6 linked regions of the Homo sapiens genome follow. The protein of the gene in region 3 purifies or fractionates together with the protein of the main gene of each other region. This does not show direct contact. Each region holds a gene or a part of one and is shown on either strand. Other genes may lie near its edges. The genes, in order: TYMS, KLHL22, ARHGEF35, OBSL1, KLHL13 and MON1B.

What was found.
Region 1: the proteins of ARHGEF35 (region 3) and TYMS purify together in Homo sapiens (affinity purification with mass spectrometry; one large-scale study listed by BioGRID and IntAct). This does not show direct contact.
Region 2: the proteins of ARHGEF35 (region 3) and KLHL22 purify together in Homo sapiens (co-immunoprecipitation; one large-scale study listed by IntAct). This does not show direct contact.
Region 4: the proteins of ARHGEF35 (region 3) and OBSL1 purify together in Homo sapiens (co-immunoprecipitation; 3 studies listed by BioGRID and IntAct, with this or other methods). This does not show direct contact.
Region 5: the proteins of ARHGEF35 (region 3) and KLHL13 purify together in Homo sapiens (co-immunoprecipitation; one large-scale study listed by IntAct). This does not show direct contact.
Region 6: the proteins of ARHGEF35 (region 3) and MON1B purify together in Homo sapiens (co-immunoprecipitation; one large-scale study listed by IntAct). This does not show direct contact.

Annotation. Positions count from the first base shown.
Region 1 is NC_000018.10:664,153-667,652, forward strand, and holds part of TYMS (thymidylate synthase), read left to right. Parts: coding exon of another isoform or gene 1-1,124; exon of another isoform or gene 1,125-2,244; intron 2,245-2,684; exon of another isoform or gene 2,685-3,500. Other genes in the region: ENOSF1 (mitochondrial enolase superfamily member 1), read right to left, coding at 1-1,124. UniProt on the Homo sapiens protein: Catalyzes the reductive methylation of 2'-deoxyuridine 5'-monophosphate (dUMP) to thymidine 5'-monophosphate (dTMP), using the cosubstrate, 5,10- methylenetetrahydrofolate (CH2H4folate) as a 1-carbon donor and reductant and contributes to the de novo mitochondrial thymidylate biosynthesis pathway.
Region 2 is NC_000022.11:20,464,796-20,468,295, reverse strand, and holds part of KLHL22 (kelch-like protein 22), read left to right. Parts: intron 1-2,719; coding exon 2,720-3,438; intron 3,439-3,500. UniProt on the Homo sapiens protein: Substrate-specific adapter of a BCR (BTB-CUL3-RBX1) E3 ubiquitin ligase complex required for chromosome alignment and localization of PLK1 at kinetochores.
Region 3 is NC_000007.14:144,193,034-144,197,031, reverse strand, and holds the start of ARHGEF35 (rho guanine nucleotide exchange factor 35), read left to right. Parts: upstream 1-1,198; 5' UTR 1,199-1,494; exon of another isoform or gene 1,495-1,711; intron 1,712-3,998.
Region 4 is NC_000002.12:219,554,540-219,558,039, reverse strand, and holds part of OBSL1 (obscurin-like protein 1 isoform 1 precursor), read left to right. Parts: coding exon 1-217; intron 218-421; coding exon 422-697; intron 698-1,316; coding exon 1,317-1,586; intron 1,587-1,747; coding exon 1,748-2,020; coding exon of another isoform or gene 2,021-2,043; exon of another isoform or gene 2,044-2,891; intron 2,892-3,299; coding exon 3,300-3,500. UniProt on the Homo sapiens protein: Core component of the 3M complex, a complex required to regulate microtubule dynamics and genome integrity. It is unclear how the 3M complex regulates microtubules, it could act by controlling the level of a microtubule stabilizer.
Region 5 is NC_000023.11:117,917,811-117,921,310, forward strand, and holds part of KLHL13 (kelch-like protein 13), read right to left. Parts: intron 2,561-3,500; coding exon 2,428-2,560; intron 1,908-2,427; coding exon 1,711-1,907; intron 1-1,710. UniProt on the Homo sapiens protein: Substrate-specific adapter of a BCR (BTB-CUL3-RBX1) E3 ubiquitin-protein ligase complex required for mitotic progression and cytokinesis.
Region 6 is NC_000016.10:77,197,690-77,201,189, forward strand, and holds part of MON1B (vacuolar fusion protein MON1 homolog B), read left to right. Parts: intron 1-418; coding exon 419-619; 3' UTR 620-1,762; coding exon of another isoform or gene 1,763-1,823; 3' UTR 1,824-3,500. Other genes in the region: SYCE1L (synaptonemal complex central element protein 1-like), read left to right, coding at 1,763-1,823.

The sequences.
Region 1 (3,500 bases), on a different chromosome or scaffold from region 3:
GGAATGGTCTTCCATTTCTTTGTATCCTCTTTTATTTCATTGAGCAGTGGTTTGTAGTTCTCCTTGAAGAGGTCCTTCACATCCCTTTTAAGGTGGATTCCTAGGTATTTTATTCTCTTTGAAGCAATTGTGAGTGGAAGTTCACTCATGATTTGGCTCTCTGTTTGTCTGTTATTGGTGTATAAGAATGCTTGTGATTTTTGCAGATTGATTTTATATCCTGAGACTTTGCTGAAGTTGCTTATCAGCTTAAGGAGATTTTGGGCTGAGACAATGGGGTTTTCTAGATATACAATCATGTCGTCTGCAAACAGGGACAATTTGACTTCCTCTTTTCCTAATTGAATACCCTTTATTTCCTTCTCCTGCCTAATTGCCCTGGCCAGAACTTCCAACACTATGTTGAATAGGAGTGGTGAGAGAGGGCATCCCTGTCTTGTGCCAGTTTTCAAAGGGAATGCTTCCAGTTTTTGCCCATTCAGTATGATATTGGCTGTGGGTTTGTCATAGATAGCTCTTATTATTTTGAAATATGTCCCATCAATACCTAATTTATTGAGAGTTTTTAGCATGATGTGTTGTTGAATTTTGTCAAAGGCCTTTTCTGCATCTATTGAGATAATCATGTGGTTTTTGTCTTTGGATCTGTTTATATGCTGGATTACATTTATTGATTTGTGTATATTGAACCAGCCTTGCATCCCAGGGATGAAGCCCACATGATCATGGTGGATAAGCTTTTTGATGTGCTGCTGGATTCGGTTTGCCAGTATTTTATTGAGGAATTTTGCATCAATGTTCATCAAGGATATTGGTCTAAAATTCTCTTTTTTGGTTGTGTCTCTGCCCAGCTTTGGTATCAGGATGATGCTGGCTTCATAAAATGAGTTAGGGAGGATTCCCTCTTTTTCTATTGATTGGAATAGTTTCAGAAGGAATGGTACCAGTTCCTCTTTGTACCTCTGGTAGAATTCGGCTGTGAATCCATCTGGTCCTGGACTCTTTTTGGTTGGTAAGCTATTGATTATTGCCACAATTTCAGCTCCTGTTATTGGTCTATTCAGAGATTCAACTTCTTCCTGGTTTAGTCTTGGGAGAGTGTATGTGTCAAGGAATTTATCCATTTCTTCTAGATTTTCTAGTTTATTTGCGTAGAGGTGTTTGTAGTAATCTCTGATGGTAGTTTGTATTTCTGTGGGATTGGTGGTGATATCCCCTTTATCATTTTTTATTGCGTCTATTTGATTCTTCTCTTTTTCTTTATTAGTCTTGCTAGCGGTCTATAAATTTTGTTGATCCTTTCAAAAAACCAGCTCCTGGATTCATTAATTTTTTGAAGGGTTTTTTGTGTCTCTATTTCCTTCAGTTCTGCTCTGATTTTAGTTATTTCTTGCCTTCTGCTAGCTTTTGAATGTGTTTGCTCTTGCTTTTCTAGTTCTTTTAATTGTGATGTTAGGGTGTCAATTTTGGATCTTTCCTGCTTTCTCTTGTGGGCATTTAGTGCTATAAATTTCCCTCTACACACTGCTTTGAATGTGTCCCAGAGATTCTGGTATGTTGTGTCTCTGTTCTCGTTGGTTTCAAAGAACATCTTTATTTCTGCCTTCATTTCGTTATGTACCCAGTAGTCATTCCGGAGCAGGTTGTTCAGTTTCCATGTAGTTGAGCAGTTTTGAGTGAGTTTCTTAGTTCTGAGTTCTAGTTTGATTGCACTGTGGTCTGAGAGATAGTTTGTTATAATTTCTGTTCTTTTACATTTGCTGAGGAGAGCTTTACTTCCAACTATGTGGTCAATTTTGGAATAGGTGTGGTGCGGTGCTGAAAAAAATGTATATTCTGTTGATTTGGGGTGGAGAGTTCTGTAGATGTCTATTAGGTCCGCTTAGTGCAGAGCTGAGTTCAATTCCTGGGTATCCTTGTTAACTTTCTGTCTCGTTGATCTGTCTAATGTTGACAGTGGGGTGTTAAAGTCTCCCATTATTAATGTGTGGGAGTCTAAGTCTCTTTGTAGGTCAGATGATTGGCACTTACTGGGCGCTTGGCACTTTCCATACTGTGTCATCGGCAGATAGCTGCATGGTTGGTGTTCGTGCTGGGGAATGGGAAGTTCATCGGTGGGACAAGGGACAAAATGCCCCCATTGCTTTGTTGTGGCTTTAATCTCCCTTTCGAGGCTGAGCCACAGCGTGCTGTAGGTGGCGCTGCTGTGAAGCGCAGTGCCAGGGTCACACTCCACTCCCAGCTCTGCAGAGGTGGAGAAAGAATGAAACATCTCACTCCTGGACTTCCACTTTCCTGTCACTGTTGGTGTCACCTCTTACTGGATGTCACAGAGCCCAGCCCCTCCCACCTGTCCCTAGGAAAAGCAGATGCCACCTTGGAATGTGGGGTTTGTGTGTGCAATTTACTAGCTGGGCAGAGACCAGCAACCTGGAGAGCAGGTGTCTCATCTAAGGGGACAGTCACATTTCACCTCCAGCCACCTGGAGGAATTTGGGCCTGGTGATGTCAGAATTCTTCAATAAAAGCCTAAAATCTATATTTTATGTGCGGTCATGAGATCTGTTAAATGTTAGCAACTTCAGGAAGTTTAAAAATGCTGTGTGGACCTAGAATAGGCAAGTTCTTAAAGGCAGAAAGTGGAATGCTAGTTTCCAGGGACTGGGGAACAGGGAGGAATGGGGAGTTCATGTTTAATGGGCACAGAGGTTTTGTTAGGGATGACGAAAAAGTTCGGGAGATGGTGATGGAGATGGTGATGGTGATGGAGATGGTGATGGTGATGGAGATGGTGATGGTGATGGAGATGGAGATGGTGATGGAGATGGAGATGGTGATGGTGATGGAGATGGTGATGGTGATGGAGATGGAGATGGTGATGGAGATGGTGATGGTGATGGAGATGGAGATGGTGATGGTGATGGAGATGGTGATGGTGATGGAGATGGAGATGGAGATGGTGATGGTGATGGTGATGGAGATGGTGATGGTGATGGTGATGGTGATGGAGATGGTGATGGTGATGGTGATGGTGATGGAGATGGTGATGGTGATGGTGATGGAGATGGTGATGGTGATGGAGATGGAGATGGTGATGGTGATGGTGATGGAGATGGTGATGGTGATGGGATGGTGATGGAGATGGTGATGGTGATGGTGATGGAGATGGTGATGGTGATGGAGATGGTGATGGAGATGGTGATGGTGATGGAGATGGTGATGGTGATGGTGATGGTGATGGAGATGGTGATGGTGATGGTGATGGTGATGGTGATGGAGATGGTGATGGTGATGGTGATGGTGATGATGGAGATGGTGATGGTGATGGTGATGGTGATGGTGATGGAGATGGTGATGGTGATGGTGATGGTGATGGAGATGGTGATGGTGATGGTGATGGAGATGGTGATGGTGATGGAGATGGTGATGGTGATGGTGATGGTGATGGTGATGGTGATGGAGATGGGTGATGGTGATGGTTGCCTAACATCAGGAACGTG
Region 2 (3,500 bases), on a different chromosome or scaffold from region 3:
GCTGCCCAGGCTTCTTCAGGGCTGTTTGTGCTCACATTCTGCCCAAAACTTGGTCTTCAGGACCCTGGCCCATGACAAACCAGAATTTTAGGAAAACCTAGTAGTTTGGGAAGAAGTGGCAAAGCAGAAGACTGGCAAAAAGGGAAAAAAGAAGGTCAAGTGAAGCTGGTCAGGGCCTAGCAAAGCACCATGGGGATACCTCATGTAGGGCACATACCTGCCTGACATTTGGTAGGTCTCATCCAGCTCTTAGCATGTCACCTTGCAAGCAATATTAGATGTCTTTTGAATTTTAAAAAAGTTATAGTTAGTGTTTATTGATAAGCTTTAAATACCTTGGCCGGGCGCCGTGGCTCACGCCTGTAATCCCAGCACTTTGGGAGGCCTAGGCGGGCAGATCACGAGGTCAGGAGATCGAGACCATCCTGGCTAACACGATGAAACCCCGTCTCTACTAAAAATACAAAAAATTAGCCGGGCGTGGTGGCGGGCGTCTGTTGTCCCAGCTACTTGGGAGGCTGAGGTGGGAGAATGGCGTGAACCCGGGAGGCGGAGCTTGCAGTGAGCCGAGATCGTGCCACTGCACTCCAGCCTGGGCAACAGAGTGAGACCCCATCTCAAAATAATAAATAAATAAATACATAAATACCAGCAGAATTATTCCATGTGTAATGGTTAATTTATTGATGATCCTGGATAAGCCAGGTATTCCCATTTTTAGAGAAACTGATTTATTGCATTGAACACATGGCTGGAGTTGGTAGCAAGGGGGTTCCCACAAGAGGGGACCCCACAGCATCCTGAAATGGAGCCGTTTTGGGATTCCAAAGAAAGAAGCATCAAACACCAGGGTGATCTGGCCAGAGCGTTTATTAGGGGAACTTATGTATAGAGTGATGTAGCATGTCCTCAAGACAGACAAGGGAAAAGAGAGGCTTTACCCAGGCTTGCCCACAGAGTGGGTTAGTGTATGGAGTTTCTATGAGGGTTTAAGGAATTTGTCTCAGGGCCAGAACCAGTTTTTCCTTCAGTGTTTTGGGTAACAACCTTGATGCCTTTATCAGTGCCTGGGAATGTTCAAGGGCCTGGTTTGGGTTCAAGCCTGCTGGGAGAACCTGCAGCTGTCTGGGTCACAGAGAGGTCAAGGTACTCGTCATTTTCAATCTGAACATGGAAAGAAAGGAGGTGGGCACTGGGGGGCCCCACTGAAACTCTAAAATCCTGCTTTCCTAAATAATTTATCAACACCTGGTTTGTTCTCCCAGGCAGTTTTCCCTAGGGCCCTTCCCTTTGTCTCCTATTCTCCCAAGATTTGGTTGTCTGTTCACAGGGTGGCCTTTAACAGCCTGCTGGTTGTGGCCTTGTTCCCACCTCCCTCCAGTGTCATTCTCTCTCTTGCCGTCCTTTCAAACCACTAGTGCTTCCCCATGGCTGGGAAGGGTTGATATGGCCACCTGGGAGCCCCTGCACTTACTGGAGTCAAGTGGGTCTTGACCCAGCTGGGAACCTCAAGAACCCTGAGTCAGGGATCACTTGAGCCCAGAAGCTTGAGACTTCGGTGAGCTATGATCTTGCCATGGCACTGCAGCCTGGGCAACAGAGCAAGACCCTGTCTCAAATTTTAAAAAGAAAAAAGAAAAATAATTCTAAATCAGGTTCCTGGGTGGGTATTGGTTAGGTGTCTGAGAGGCTCTGAGCACTTCTAGGGAACCAGGGTGGATGTTCTGGCGGGGGAAAAAGCCAGGTTTGTTTCTGGTCCCAGCGCTTTTGGAGAGGCAGGCTCTTCCAGAGAATCCTAGGGTAGGGATGGGGATGGTCTTAGGTCCTTTCCAAACCACAGATATATGACACAGTGACCATTTGTGCTGCTTCCTGCTTTTCTGGAGAGCCAGTACTTCTTTTTTTTTTTTTTTTTTTTTTTTTAGACGGAGTCTCGCTCTGTCACCCAGGTTGGAGTGCAATGGCGCGATCTCGGCTCACTGCAACCTCCGCCTCCTGGGTTCCAGCGATTCTCCTGCCTCAGCCTCCTGAGTAGCTGGGATTACAGGCGCGCGCCACCACGCCCAGCTAATTTTTGTATTTCTAGTAGAGACGGTGTTTCACCATGTTGGTCAGGCTGGTCTCAAACTCCTGACCTCGTGATACACCCACCTTGTCCTCCCAAAGTGCTGGGATTATAGGCATGAGCCACCGCACCCGGCCGAGCCAGTACTTTTGATCTAAGAGGGAACTGACATATATCAAGGGTCCACTCCTATGTGCTCTCTCATTTTCATCATGTTCCTCTTCACTTTAATGATCCCCGTTTTATAGATGAGGAGACTGAGGCTTAGAGAGGTTAAAAACATTCTGTACGGGAGGCTGAGGCAGGAGAATCATTTCAACCCGGGAGGGGGAGGTGTTAGTGAGCCGAGATTCTGCCACTGCACTCCATTCTGGGCAACAAGAGCGAAACTTTGTCTCAAAGAAAAGCAAAACAAAACCAAAAAAAAACATGCTGTATATCCTGTCACCCAGTATGTTTCCAAACCAGGACTTAAACCTAGTCTGCAGTAAGCCCCAGTCTCCAGTGTGTCAGAAAAGGTCGGGGACAATTAAGGAGGACTTCCCTTCTGCTTTGCCTGGCCCACAACAGCCCGTATTTCTGCCATCATTCTCTCTCCCACCCCCAGATGCTGTTCACCAGCCCAGGCTTGAATGGGTGTCATTCTCTCTGCAGATCCCAGAAATTATCCATTTCTGCTGTGATTTCCTCATGTCCTGGGTGGACGAAGAGAACATTCTCGATGTCTACCGGCTGGCAGAGCTGTTTGACTTGAGCCGCCTGACTGAGCAACTGGACACCTATATCCTCAAAAACTTTGTGGCCTTCTCTCGGACTGACAAGTACCGCCAGCTTCCATTGGAGAAGGTCTACTCCCTCCTCAGCAGCAATCGCCTGGAGGTCTCCTGCGAGACCGAGGTATATGAGGGGGCCCTTCTCTACCATTATAGCCTGGAGCAGGTGCAGGCTGACCAGATCTCGCTGCACGAGCCCCCAAAGCTCCTTGAGACAGTGCGGTTTCCGCTGATGGAAGCTGAGGTCCTGCAGCGGCTGCATGACAAGCTGGACCCCAGCCCTTTGAGGGACACAGTGGCCAGCGCCCTCATGTACCACCGGAACGAGAGCCTACAGCCCAGCCTGCAGAGCCCGCAAACGGAGCTGCGGTCGGACTTCCAGTGCGTTGTGGGCTTCGGGGGCATTCACTCCACGCCGTCCACTGTCCTCAGCGACCAGGCCAAGTATCTAAACCCCTTACTGGGAGAGTGGAAGCACTTCACTGCCTCCCTGGCCCCCCGCATGTCCAACCAGGGCATCGCGGTGCTCAACAACTTCGTATACTTGATTGGAGGGGACAACAATGTCCAAGGATTTCGAGCAGAGTCCCGATGCTGGAGGTAGGACAGGGTGCTAGCTGGTCCCTTTGTCTTCAGGTGATGAGAGGGTGTGGAAGTCATGG
Region 3 (3,998 bases):
AGATTCAACCAAAAATAACAGAAATCTCTGTCCCCCAGGTAAAGGATTCCTACTTTGTGTGTGTCTGTGTGTGCACACAGGCACACTCGAGAGACTTTTGGCATTCTTTGAAGTCACTGGAGGGGCACAGAGATAAACCCACTCAGCCTTGGCCTCCAAGACTAACAGAACAAAACGTTTCCCTGAAAGAATAAAAAAAAAATACAGGCATAAGAAAACACACAAACATGGGCTTAGAGATTTAAATACACACACACACACACACACACACACACACACACACAGGCCCTAGAAGGAACATACACCCTGAGATACGCACTCATTCTAAAATAAACTCGGGAATACAGAAGGACACGGGCATGTCCTTTCAGAGAGGCACACTTCTAGGCCCTAAGTAGGAGAAGGAAGAGGGGAGAGGAAGAGGCAGGGAGAGGGACAGGGAGGGGGGAGGAGGGAGGGAGAGAGAGAGAGAAACGAAGAAGGGGGCGGAGGAGGAGATGGAGGAGACACTCTTTATTCTATAGGAGGAGACATCACGGAAGAGAAATCAACACTGAGGCCTTGGCCGGGCGCGGTGGCTCACGCCTGTAATCCCAGCACTTTGGGAGGCCGAGGCGGGTGCATCACCTGAGGTCAGGAGTTTCCAGACCAGCCTGGCCAACATGGCGAAACCCGGCCTCTACTAAAAAATACAAAAATTAGCCGGGCATGGTGGCGCGGACCTGTAATCCCAGCTACTCGGGAGGCTGAGGCAGGAGAATCTCTTGAACCCGGAGACGGAGGTTGCAGTGAGCCGAGATCGCGCCATTGCACTCCAGCCTGGGCAACAGGGCGAGACTCCGTCTCAGAAAAAACAACAACAACAACAACAACGAACAAACCAAAAACCAATGAGGCCTGAAGATAAAGACACATGTACAACCACGGATGTCAGACTTCCAGAGGCACGGCCAAGGCAAAAGACAAACACATACAGACTGCAGCAGGCAGACAGGCCGGTTCCAGAGTCAGGCTCCGGTGAAGCTCCGAAGAAACAAACACGCAGGGAGATTTCGGAGGCGTCCGAGGACACCGTGGGGCCCGGCTGGCTCCCTCTGTCTCTGTGCGCGCCCCTTCCCCGGGTCACCCCGCCTGCGCCCGACCTGCGCCCGCGCACCGCGCCCTCGGGGCTCCCTGGGACAGCCCGCGGCCTGGCCCGTGCGCCCGGGCTCCCCTCTCCGCCGGCCCGGCACTTCCCAGCTCTGACGCGGGAGCTTCTTTCACACCAATGGGGCTCGCGCGCGGAGGGGCCCTGCCCCTCCTCCGGGAAGGTGTGTCCCTGTTTCCTCACCTGAAACTTCCTAGGAGAACCCGATCCCTCCCTCCCGTCGGGCGGCCAGGGGCGGGCCGCGGGTGGGGCGGCCGGGCCTGCGCTGGGGACGGCTCTGGGGACTGCGGCCGGCGCCGGGACCTGGAGGGGACGCTGGGGCCGAAGCAGCATGTGACACCGACCAGGTGGGTGCCCTCCTCCCGTCTCGGCCCTGGGCTCCCGGCGGCTGTGGAGCCCGGCGGAGGTGGGGCAGGGACAGGAAGGAAGAGGAAGCCAGGCCTTTCCCAGGGATCAGCCCCCGCTGGGTCCGGGGCGCAGGCTCCGGAAATGGGGGGGCTGGGCCCGCAGGCAGGGCTCGGGGTGTGTGGCTGAGGACCCTGGTGGGGAAGAGGAGAGGAACTAGAGGAAATGTTGTTGCCTACAAGTTTGCTTCCGGTCGGGTCCCGCCTAGGAAATGGGCACCCTGCCCCCAGACGTTCCCCGGGCCAATAATCAGGGCTCTTTCTTCAAAGTAGGCGCCCTGGGGAAAGCTAAGCCATATCAGAAGGAATAACTGAGATTCCCTTTCTAGGCTGTTCCTTACCTGGAGAGGTTTTATCGGCTCCTTTTCCTTAACCAGGCCGGGGCCTTTCCTTATGTATCTCCATAGGTATTTGCATACTGTGTGAGTCTATGTGTAGCTTCTCTCCGTGTTAACCAAAGCTCCGTAACCTGGAACAGTGAATCCTGCCCTGCCCCTCACCCCAGTTCCCTACATATGGGGAGCCTCCTAAAGCTTGATGTGAATCACAACGTTGCATTCTTAGCAAGGTGGAAAGAAGTTATTTAGAGTTGGGGGCTGAGGTAGGCGTTGGGGTGCTAGAATGCGGACGCAGAGCTCTAGAACCCCTGAGCATCTTTTGCAGTTGCCTTCCGGCAAGACTACCGGAGGAGAGCCAGTTGTGATACTACGTCATTTCCAGATCTCAGTCCCTTTCTTCCCTTCCTGGATCTTGGGTTCCAAAGACAGATTTGCCCTCCTGTCTACCTAGAAGTGAACTCTGGCCAGGACTCTTGTCTGGTTGAGAGAGAAGGGTGTGTCAAACAGATGAGAGAGGGTGGTTTTCCTTTCGAGCTTCCTCCCTAGCTTGCTCCCCTACTGCACTCCACTGTCTGGCCTTGCATCTTGGGCCTAATCCAGAGGTCCCAGCTCCAGCTAAAAAGCTCTTGATGTGGCCTCTGTCTCAGACGTCTTGTTTTATCCACATTTGGAGCATGAAGAAGTTCCTGGCATAGGCCTTAGCAAAATGGGTGTCATTTGTTAACCAATCTGTGGGCCTAAAAGTGAAGCCATGGCTAGTGAAGGAGTCCTGGGGAGCTGGGAAGATGGGATGAGGGCGTGTCAGTTCTGGGTGAGACTGATATGCAGGAGGAATGTATGTCATGGTCCTAGTGGGGAGGAGAGAGAAATCAGGAGGAGTGCAAAGGAATCCCTCTCATCAACAGAATATAGTGATTCTCAATAGAGAGAAGAGTGTTCATATATTAGAGGTCCTGAGAGTGTATCAGTGCCCTTAACGCGGTCTGTCTGAGGTTCCGTGGCCACGTTACACGTGGTGTCTGTGGGATAGACAGGAATACGTCATTTGTGGTGTCTGGAGAGGTCAGTCGCTATGTGGTATGGACAGGAATGGAGTCACTCGTAGGGTCTTGGGTTCAACGGGAGCAGCATTACTCAAGTGTCAGTGGTGTAGACAAACAGGTGACCAACAGCTCTAGTGTAGACAGGGGCTGGGTCACTCACAGTGTCTGTGGAGTAAGCAGGAGCCGATCACTTATAGTGCCTGCAAGGTAGACTGGAACAAAGTCACCCTCAAGGTCTATGTTAATACACAAACACGTCACTCACACTAATGTTATCTGTGTGGATGCCACCAGGACCACAGATGAGATTGTAGAGTGTAAGTCAGCATTGACACTAATAATGTTCTTATATAAACTATCTGGTCTATAAGGCAGTTGGTGTGACATTTTCAGACATTAGAGAATAGATAAATGTGTATTACAGCTTTCACTGGCATGGTGGGACTTTCCTGCAATGGATAGAACACACATTGTAGTAGTCAGTGGTCCAGAAAGCTACCCCTGTTTTGATATCTTTGTAGTATTGAGGGCAGTGATGTCAAACAGTGAATAAAGTTATATATCTATGTGGTGATCTTATTTTAACCTCAATATTATTTTAGTGATTTGTAAGTCAGAATATTTGAAATCAACCTTGCTAGAAAATCCAGGAAGCATGGTCCTCAAAAATATATATATGGCACTGAGTCTCAGTTCAAAGATTTGGCAGTTTGATTGGGGAGGGGTTGTATCCTTGAAATACAGTGTTGTTTCTAGTGACTAGAAATAGACAAGAGCTAAGGTGTTGGTGGGGGGGCTCTAGGGAAGATAGTGAGCTCTGTCACACATTATGTTAAAGGGATGACTTGAAGCTTTGCCTCTCAAGAAGTCACACGTGGGTGAGGTTATGTGGATGCAGAATGTCTGTGGTCTGAAGCAAGGCCGTATCCCCATAATCCCATGCCCTGGCTTTGCCTGTACACAGATAAACAGTGATTATTCACCCTCAGTGGAGAAGGAGATGAGGATGTTTGCACTCTAACGTAATGAGCATTGCAAAAAACTCTCTCCTGATGCCTTTACGTGA
Region 4 (3,500 bases), on a different chromosome or scaffold from region 3:
GTGCTGAGCTGTGAACTGTCCCGGGCTGGCGCCCCCGTGGTCTGGAGCCACAATGGGAGGCCCGTGCAGGAGGGCGAGGGCCTAGAGCTCCATGCCGAGGGCCCCCGCCGAGTCCTCTGCATCCAGGCTGCAGGCCCAGCCCATGCAGGGCTCTACACCTGCCAGTCTGGAGCAGCCCCCGGAGCCCCAAGCCTCAGCTTCACCGTCCAGGTGGCTGGTGAGTACAGCCTGGGCATTAAGCCTGAGAGTGGCACCAAGCCTGAGAGTGGCACCCCAAACTCTGCGGGATTCCTGCTTTTCCAGCATGCCTTGCCCATCCCTGGCCCCACTTCTCTCAGTACCTTCCCCGTCATGCCTCCCCGTGCCCTCCTCAAAGCCCTGAGCCTCTCCCTCCCAGTGACCTCCAGCTCTGACTCCACAGAGCCCCCTGTGCGGGTGGTAGCTCCCGAGGCAGCCCAGACGAGGGTTCGGAGCACCCCAGGCGGGGACCTAGAGCTGGTGGTGCACCTCTCCGGGCCAGGGGGCCCTGTACGCTGGTACAAGGACGGGGAGCGACTGGCAAGCCAGGGGCGGGTGCAGCTGGAGCAGGCCGGGGCCAGGCAGGTGCTGCGGGTGCAGGGGGCACGGAGCGGGGACGCTGGGGAGTACCTGTGCGATGCGCCCCAGGACAGCCGCATCTTCCTTGTCAGCGTGGAAGGTAACAGTGTACCCCTCACACCCTGTGGGCTGTGGCACCCCAAGGACCATCTGCCACTTTCTAGGGCCCCCTTACTCCTCCACCCCCGCTTTGCTGCTTCTGGCTCCAACCAGTGCGTGCATGACCATCACTTGGATAGGGGCTCAGGGCTCCTCTTTCCAGAAACCCTCATGTTGAGAGCAGCATAAACCAGTGGTTAAAAGCAGGGGCTCTAGAGTCCACCCAGCCAGGTTCCAGCCTAGATTCTGTGCCCCAGTAGCTGTGTGACATTGGCCAAGTTGTTCAACCTGTCTGAGCCCCGGCTCTGAAAAGAGGGGATAGTGCTTTTCTTATAGGCCTGTTGTGACAAGTAAATGCTGTAAATAGGGTCCCTGGTAATTGATATTATTAGGGTGCCACCAAGGTGGGGTGCTAGGCTAGGATTATGAGGAACTGACTAAAAGGAGTGGCAGGGAGCTGGCATCTTGTCCTTTGGGCCATCGGTGTGGTCGATACATAGTAGGTCCTCACAGAAGGTCTGTTAAATGACTGGGGACGAGGGCCTGCATCCTGAGGAGGGGATGAAAAGGAGAGAGAAGAAAAGACTCAGCCCAGCTCACTGCCTTACCGTGCCCCTTAGAGCCACTGCTGGTGAAGCTGGTCTCGGAGCTGACACCACTCACTGTCCACGAGGGCGATGATGCCACGTTCCGGTGTGAAGTCTCCCCACCAGATGCCGATGTCACCTGGCTGCGCAATGGGGCCGTCGTCACTCCAGGGCCCCAGGTGGAGATGGCCCAGAATGGTTCAAGCCGCATCTTAACCTTGCGAGGCTGCCAACTGGGGGATGCAGGGACCGTGACTTTGCGGGCAGGGAGCACGGCCACAAGTGCCCGGCTCCATGTTCGAGGTTAGGTCCTGATGAGGATGAGATACTCTGTGTCCCGTGCCTGTACTCCCAACCAGGATTCCAGCAGCCTTGCCTCTCCACCTAGGGACAGACCAGTGGGATGGAGCAAGGGGCCAGCCTCCAACCCCACCAGACTCCATGGCCTCCTTCTTCCCCACCAGAGACAGAGCTGCTGTTCCTACGGCGGTTGCAGGATGTGCGGGCAGAGGAAGGCCAGGATGTGTGTCTCGAAGTGGAGACAGGCCGAGTGGGTGCAGCGGGGGCCGTGCGCTGGGTGCGAGGTGGGCAGCCCCTGCCCCACGACTCTCGCCTGTCCATGGCCCAGGATGGGCACATCCACCGCCTCTTCATCCATGGTGTCATACTGGCCGACCAGGGCACCTACGGCTGCGAGAGCCACCACGATCGCACCCTGGCCAGGCTCAGCGTGAGGCGTGAGTGCCCCGTCCTCTCTTAATGCATTACCCACCCTACACCACAGCCTTTTCTGGCTGTCCTGGAGTCCCTCAGGCCCCCACCAAAGTGCCCCTCATCGCTGAGAAAAGTCACCCATGGCCGTCCCAGCAGCAGCTTGCCCAAAGCAAAACTTTTCTTTTTCTAATATTTTTTATTTACCTTAGAAGTCCATGTGGATTTTGCATTCCATTGCATATTTCCAAGTCGGCTTTGCTATAAACACAAATATTCTCCAGAAAGACTTGCCATGGGCATCCTTCAGGCATGTATTCTAGGGATACACATACCCACTTAAGTAGCAGGGATGGCTGTCAAACAGCACCCCACACCTCCCACCCAAAGCTGGAGCCCTCTGTTTCCTATGTGACCTCATGCAAGTTAACCTCTTTGAGCCAAGTCTCCTTAAAAATGGGGCTGAGACCAGGTGCAGTGGCTCACGCCTATAATCCTAACACTTTGGGAGGCCAAGGCAGGAGGATCCCTTGAGGCCAGGAGTTCGAGGCCATCCTGGGCAACATAGCAAGAACCCATCTCCACAAAAAAAAATAAAAATTAGCCGGGCATGGTAGTTACTAGGGAGGCTGAGGCAGAAGGATTGCTTGAACCCAGGAGGTTGAGGCTATAGTGAGCTATGATCATGTCACGGCATTCCAGCCTGGGTGACAGCAAGACCCTGTCTCAAATTTTAAAAATGGGGTTGATCCCCGTCTCAAGTGTCTCTGGGAACATTAACTGAGATAACATGAAAATTCTTACACAGAGCTTGGTGAATGGTTGTCATTTGTGACACATCTCTTCTAACTTATTTCATTCAAGAAATCATCACAATAAACCTGTGTCCCAATGTTATTCACCTTGTACAGCTGGGGCAACTGGGGTCCAGAGAGGTCAGGCCATTTGCCAAAGATCACATAGCACACAAACTATGTGGTAGAGCGAGGTTCCATTCCTAGTGTGTCTGACTCCAAATTCCGTGCTCCTTCAAGTGTCACAGCACCCCTCACCCAGACTCCACGACCCCCTAACCACACTTCTCCCCCTTCCTGTGCCCTCATCTCCTAACCCTGATACAGCCCTCCCCCCGCCAAATCTGTCCACCGTGCTCCTTTCTTCCTGCACCCTGGTTCCGAACTTTTTTGGTCAGGACCTTAGGTTGGGTGTTCAGGGGTGTAGGCAGGGCCAAGGGATGAGGATTGACTGCAACCCCTGCCCAGAGCTGGAGGCCTCATCCTCCCTCTCTCCATCTCCCCCGGCCAGCGAGGCAGCTGAGGGTGCTGCGGCCTCTGGAGGACGTGACCATCAGTGAGGGGGGCAGTGCCACCTTCCAGCTGGAGCTGTCCCAGGAAGGTGTGACCGGGGAGTGGGCCCGGGGTGGAGTACAGCTGTATCCAGGACCCAAGTGTCACATCCACTCGGACGGCCACCGTCACCGACTGGTACTCAATGGCCTGGGCCTGG
Region 5 (3,500 bases), on a different chromosome or scaffold from region 3:
TTTCCTTAATTTGGCTCAGGATGACCATGTGTTGCTAAGATCAGTGTAAAGCAATGTTAAGAGTCTATAAGTACAAGCTTTAAGTGTTACTACTAAATTAAATTCTGGACTTGAGGCATTTTGAAAATCACATTCAATATGATTCATTTTTCCTTGAAATGAAGTTGTTATATCATGCCAGTGACACAACCAGAGGTGAGATCCTAATAGCTCTTGAGGGAATGGGCCTTGCATGATCAAATTTAAATAAAATTTAGCACCTAAATTCAGTAATGGAGGCAAGCAATAGCATGGGAATTAACCAACTTCACTTGGGCTACTTTCGCAATAAAGAAGACAATACAAGTCAACAATATAGCACCATGCTGCCATAAAAACCCTTAAAAGTAGCAATTAGTTCAAATTTTATAAGTAATTGTGAGACAGCAGTCTGAGTTTTCTAAAATCAAACATACAAAAAACACACTTTCAATAGGCCAGTTAAATTAGTTATTGGCTGACTTTTAAGATAGTTAAGTACCTTAATAATAAAATAATTAAGGACATGGCTCTCTTGAAACTTAGTGTTTTAAAGAAGGTTCCATGTTCAAAAAATGTAAGTTGTAAAGATCTAACAGCAATTATTTACCTATATTAAGATTCATATGAGTTAAAAAATTATAGAAAACATATCCATCAACATAATGAGTTAGAAAATATACCAAAAATTAATATTGCCAGAATTCTTAATCAGAAAAACAAGCTCCAAGACCTCTGGAAGTCTTGGCAATATTTCTGTCCAATGTAGCCATTTATCTCCCCAGAAGTAAAATTTAAAGGTCTCAACTAAAATAAAACACTCTCTTCAGGAACTGGGTGACTATCATTAAGTACTCCATCGATTGGTAGTTGTATGTGTCCTATCTTATCTATTAAAAAATGGCTAAACACTATTCAGTAGGTGATATGTTTCTATGGAATCAAGACTTACATTCTTACAGGTTTGCCCATAGGTATTAGTTCTTCTTAAGATCTAGCTCCCTTATTAAAAGAAGAAATTTTAAAGAGTTCTAGAAGCTCAGATTACTTTTCCATTCAATTACATTTAAGAAGCCTGCTTGTATAGTCATTAAGGTGAATAAAACCAGATTATGGTACATACCATTATCAAACAGTTAAAGTATATATCTTCATCAAACATTATTAGTATCTCATGTCATTTGATTACACAGAGGCTTTTTTTTTCTTCCTGAGATGGAGTCTCACTCTTGTTGCCCAGGCTGGAGTGCAATGGCGTGATCTCAGTTCGCCACAACCTCCACCTCCCAGGTTCAAGCGATTCTCCTGCCTCAGCCTCCCAAGTAGCTGGAATTACAGGCATGCACCACCATGCACAGCTAATTTTTGTATTTTTAGTAGAGACGGGCTTTCTCCATGTTGGTCAGGCTGGTCTTGAACTCCCAACCTTAGACGATCTGCCCGCCTCGGCCTCCCAAAGTGCTGGGATTACAGGCGTGAGCCACGATGCCCGGCCAACACAGAGGCTTTTATTAAATGATTCTATTTCATAAAAATGCACCTGTTTCAATCTCACCTTGCTTACAGACCACATACAACAAGACACATCTGTCTAATGGCAAGTTTCACATTCCTGCACAGCAGATTTCATGAGTCCTAAACAGGCTACATCAGAGTCTACCACAGGAAAAATCAGATTTCAAAATATCTTACCCCAGATATGAGAAACACTTTACAGAAGTCCAAAACTGGCAGAATCTGTAGGAAACTGGCAGCTTCCAGCGTGTCTTGAAGGTTGTCCATATTAAGAGAAAGCTTTGCAGTATAAATGAAATCAATAATTTTCCTTAGACCGACTTTGCTCACACCATGAAGTTTAATGCACATTAAATCTTGTTCTTTCATTCCACCTTAAATAAAAAGACATTCAATTAAATGAAGGTGGATAATTATGGTCAAACTCACTTCTGCTGCTAATTAGATGCAATAAAATCAAAGGAAAGTCTTATCTTATATAAGCAGTCATATTAGAGTCAGTCTGCTGCACATTTTACTGTTAAAAGAAAGTACTTAAAAAAGATAATCTCTATACTAATGGAGGTCATATATGATGCAAGTGCTTCCAAAATGTTCTCACTTCCTATTTTTTGACATAGAGTAGAGATTGTACTAGGAGGACACAGAGTCTCTGATGGCCCACTAGATATAAGCTTGAAAAAGAAAAGCTGTGAGATAAAGATGGACAGTATGAAAAAAGTGCATCAATTTTCCATGTTAAAACAGCACCACCGAAAACCATACATACTGTTGTGTACTTCTTTTGAAGCTGTTTCCAAAAGAACCAAATTTCATGTTAGAAATAAAAAAGATTTAAACACGGATTTTTCATATTGTTTTAATGTGGTTTCAGAGTTTTAAAAGGCAAACTACCTGTGAACATAGCCTTGAAGTAATCACTAGCAGATGCCATCATGACTCTATGCACAGGGAAAGCATCATCTGTGTCACCTGGCATCAGGGTCACATCACAAAGCAATCCTTCAAGTCGAAGCTGGTCAAAGCCCTACAACAAGAACATGAGTTGAGTCACTAATCAAGGTAAAATGAGGTTACAAATCTTCGTGTGCTAAAATTGTTTGAATATTAATGTGGTGCAACATATGTGGAACATAAAGCCAACAGAATATTCGGGAGAAGAAAAAATAACTGCACAACTTTCCTGATATGTGACAATGCATGTTTTCTTTCACTGTAGGAATAACACAAAATTAAGACTAATTTAGGTTAAAAACGATTAAGGAAAAAGTATATACTTTTGCTTATTTACACAATTATCAGCTTTTACCTTATTTTGAAAAATAATTACAATGTGCACTTCTACTTTCCCATCTGCAGAATGAGAGTATTAGACTGTCTTAACATTCCTTTTCGCGATAATTTAATAGTCCTTTTATAGTGCTTGACTGAAGCATCTTGGTTTTGTTTTGTTTTGGGGGAGGTTGAGAAAGAAAAGTAGAGAGCAACTGTATTAAGTACACGATAGTTCTTTCTACTAATTGTATTACTTCATCTCTTTGAGAAGCCTATACTCAGTACATTGCTGCTGCCTGGCCAAATATCTTTCAAGTTTCAAGTTTGAGACTTAATTATCTTTGTTTGAAAAAAAACAAAAAAAAGCCCAGGAAACCCCAACATGAGACTTAATTGTCTCCAAATGCCTAAAGGTTTAGTGGAGAATTAACAGGCTAGCAGCCACAATTCAGAGGAGTGACAGAGCTCTGGTGAGAAGAATCCTTGTTGATTAGCTTTTTCACTACACCCTGATGGTCTCAACTAACGACAAATAGACAGTTGTTCTATTGATATAAGTTGGAAGAATGACAATCACTTTTAAGATTATAACAGGTTGAATCTACAACATACACATATTTCAAAACATCATGTTTTTCAATTTTTATCTTTTATTTTTAATTTTTGTGGGTACAGAGATGTATGCTTTAGGG
Region 6 (3,500 bases), on a different chromosome or scaffold from region 3:
GGGGTCAGGCCTCTCCATGTGGTATGAGGCATAAATTGAGTTCCTCTTTATATTATTCCCTGGCTGTAGATGATGAAAACATAGTTGTAGGAGCTTAGAGCAGGACCTTGTACACAATAGGTTACTGACAGAATATTAAACATTGTTACTGTTTTCCCCAGTTCCCAATGAGCAAACAGGTCTAGAGAGTACCCACACACACAACCAGCATCATCCAGTTGAAGTCACTAGGTCCAGCTGAAATTGCACAATATCAGCTTACCTACCTTAGCCCAGTATCTAGGCAGCACCTGGTAGGAGGTGCTGCCAGGTACATGTTCCAGGTTGCAGGAGGCAGACATGCAGCTGCACTGGGGTAGGCAGGATTGTCCATAGCCAGCTCTGGCCCATCTGACTCTGTCTCCTCCGAAACCCCCAGGTGACCTCCAAATTCGAGCTCTATACCTGCCTCAGCCCTCTGGTGACCAAGGCAGGTGCAATCTTGGTAGTGACCAAACTCCTGCGCTGGGTGAAGAAAGAGGAGGACCGGCTCTTCATTCGTTACCCACCCAAGTACTCCACACCACCAGCCACCTCTACGGACCAAGCTGCCCATAATGGCTTGTTCACTGGACTCTGATAGTTGGAGCTCCCAGACCAGGCAGTGCTGGGAGCAACCACCTTTGTTTTTTACCTTCTGTCTACCCTGGAAATGTGTGTGGGGGTGTGTCTGTGGCCAGTCATTGTCTCCCTAAGCAATGGGGCAAGGTCTGAGGGCCCACCGATGAGAGAGATGGTGGCAGCCGCCAGGCGAGCAGGCTGCTTTCCCTGCCCAGTCATGCACCTCCCCCTCTGGGGAAATCCTTAGGCCTCCCTCTCCCTTCCCTCTGTCTCATCTCCTCCACTTGGATGATGCTCTAGCCTCTGTCAGGGACTGTCCCCTCCAAACTTGCTTCCGTGGTCTGCCTCCTAGTTGAATCTCAGCCCTGAGTGTCCAGATCTGGCCAAGGTGTCTAGGGTGGCCCACGGGGGTGCTGGAATTGGCACTTCAGGGCCAGGCTATGCTTGGGACTGGCCTGAGGGTATTTTAAAGAAAAAAACTACATAAAAGGCCTAAAAGTAAGACCCACAAGGATATTCCTTTGCCCTTCTTGTACTTTTTTCATCTTTACCCTGCCAGAAATGACCCGCCCTCAATGCTGGCTGCTGCTAACATTAATGAGAAGGTGGCCTTCAGTGTCCACCTGTGGAACCCAGGACACAGCACCTGACTGCACACAGTGGCTGAAATCCAGCATTTTTACATAGGAGATGCACTTAGCCTCTAAGCCTCGTTTTACTCATCTGTGAAACAGAGATAAGTAACCCTCTCTCATGAACTCTTTGATGAGGATTTGTAAACGAAAACAGACTCGAACTATTGTGTACCACCACATAGCACATGCACGTCTGTCCCAGACTTTGACAACCTGCACAAGACAAGCAGCCTAAAGCAGGAGAGACCTCCCTAGGGTTTTGTGTGTGTGCACACTACCCTCACTCCCCAACTGGCCATTACCCTAGTTCTGCCCTTGTTTGTGGAGTTACAGCCTCAAGGTTGTAGCATGTGTGCTGGCAATCAGGGCCGCAGTGTGTTCTGCGCCTGCCCAGAGCTGACTCCTGATTTAACCGCTGGCGTAACCGCGGGTTGCACGCATGCGTGCTGAAAAGCCTTTCACCCTCACGTGGTTTCTTTTTTAACCAGTCATCAAGCGAGGCTCGCGCGCAGGCCCCGCGTTGGAAAATGGCGGGGAAGCTGAAACCTCTGAATGTGGAGGCGCCAGAAGCTACTGAGGAGGCTGAAGGTAGTGAGGGCAAGTGGGCTGCACTCCTTTCTCTCCAACCAGGGCAGAAAGGAGGGAGGATTCGTCCCATTACAATAATGAAATAATGATATTCTAATTTTTTTAAATAAAATGTTAAGCCTTTTGTTATTGAAGAAAAACAATTTTTTAACCGTTCAGCACAGTGGAGATAAATTAACAGGCATATTCTTATCACCGAGATTAACTTTTGTCAACTGTAGTGTATACGTTGTTGAAAGTAAACAACATGTAGTTCAGTACGAAAGTCTTCAAACAAAAGTGGGGCGGTGGGGATGTTCTCATAACAATCACCGTGCTGCAGCCACCCCTTATTAACAGTAATTCCCAGTGTCGCCATTTCACACCTAACACATATGACACTTTGATGGACTCTTAAACCTCCTAATCGAACATGGCCTCCCCCACAGCCTCTTTTCTCCAGGGTATTGACTTGAATGACAGGCAAAGGAGGGTGGAGGGGTGTCGGCCTAGACACTATTGGAAATTGTATTCCATCCAAAAGAAAAAAAAATCTCAGGCCGGGCACGGAGGCTCACGCCTGTAATCCCAGCACTTTGGGAGGCCGAGGCGGGCGGATCACGAGGTTAGGAGTTCGAGGCCAGCCTGACCAACATGGTGAAACACCATCTCTACTAAAAAACTATATATACATATACATATGTGTGTATGTGTATTTATATGTATGTATGTATGTGTGTGTATATATATATATATGTATATGTGTATATATATATATATGTGTATATATATATATATATACACACACTAATCAGCCGGGCGCGGTGGTGTGGGCCTGTAATCGCAGCTACTCAGGAAGCTGAGGCAGGAGAATCACTTGAACCCGAGAGGCGGAGGTTGCAGTGAGCCGAGATCATGTCACTGCACTCCAGCCTGGGTGACAGAGTGAGACTCCGTCTCAAAAGAAAAAAAATTCTCCCTTGGCCGGGCTTGGTGGCTTATGCCTGTAATCCCAGCACTTTGGAAGGCCGAGGCGGGTGGGTCACCTGAGGTCAGGAGTTTGAGACCAGCCTGGCCAGCATGGCGAAACCTCGTCTCTACTAAAAATACAAAAATTGTCCGGGTGTGGTGGCGGGCGCCTGTAGTCCCAGCTACTGGGGAGGCTGAGGCAGGGGAATTGCTTGAACCCGGGAGGCAGAGGTTATCGTGAGCTGACATTGCGCCACTGCACTCCAGCGCGGAAGACAGAGTGAGCAAAAAAAAAAAAAAAAAAAGAAAAAACAAAAAGAAAAAAATCTCCCAAGGCAGTCATGCATTTGTATGCCACTAGCATTTTTTTGTTATAGAAATATTCAAAGTGTACCAACGTAGAGAAAATAGCTTTAAACAAAGCCCATGTGTACCTATCAGTATGCTTTAACTGTTGTCACCTTTCTGCCCCACTTTTATCTATCTCGAACACCCCTTTCTGCACACTCTTTAAACCACTGTATTAACAAACACATTAGACTGCATCCTGCCAGACCTACCCATACAGACATCAAAGTAATGATTATTGCTTATTGCCTGACCTAGGATGTGAGCTCCATGAGAACAGAGACTGTTTACCTCTCGCTCCCCTGCACCTAAAACAATGCCTGCTTGGTGTAAAGTAAGTGCTCAGTAATTTTTTAATGTGTGACCAATGAAATAACTTCA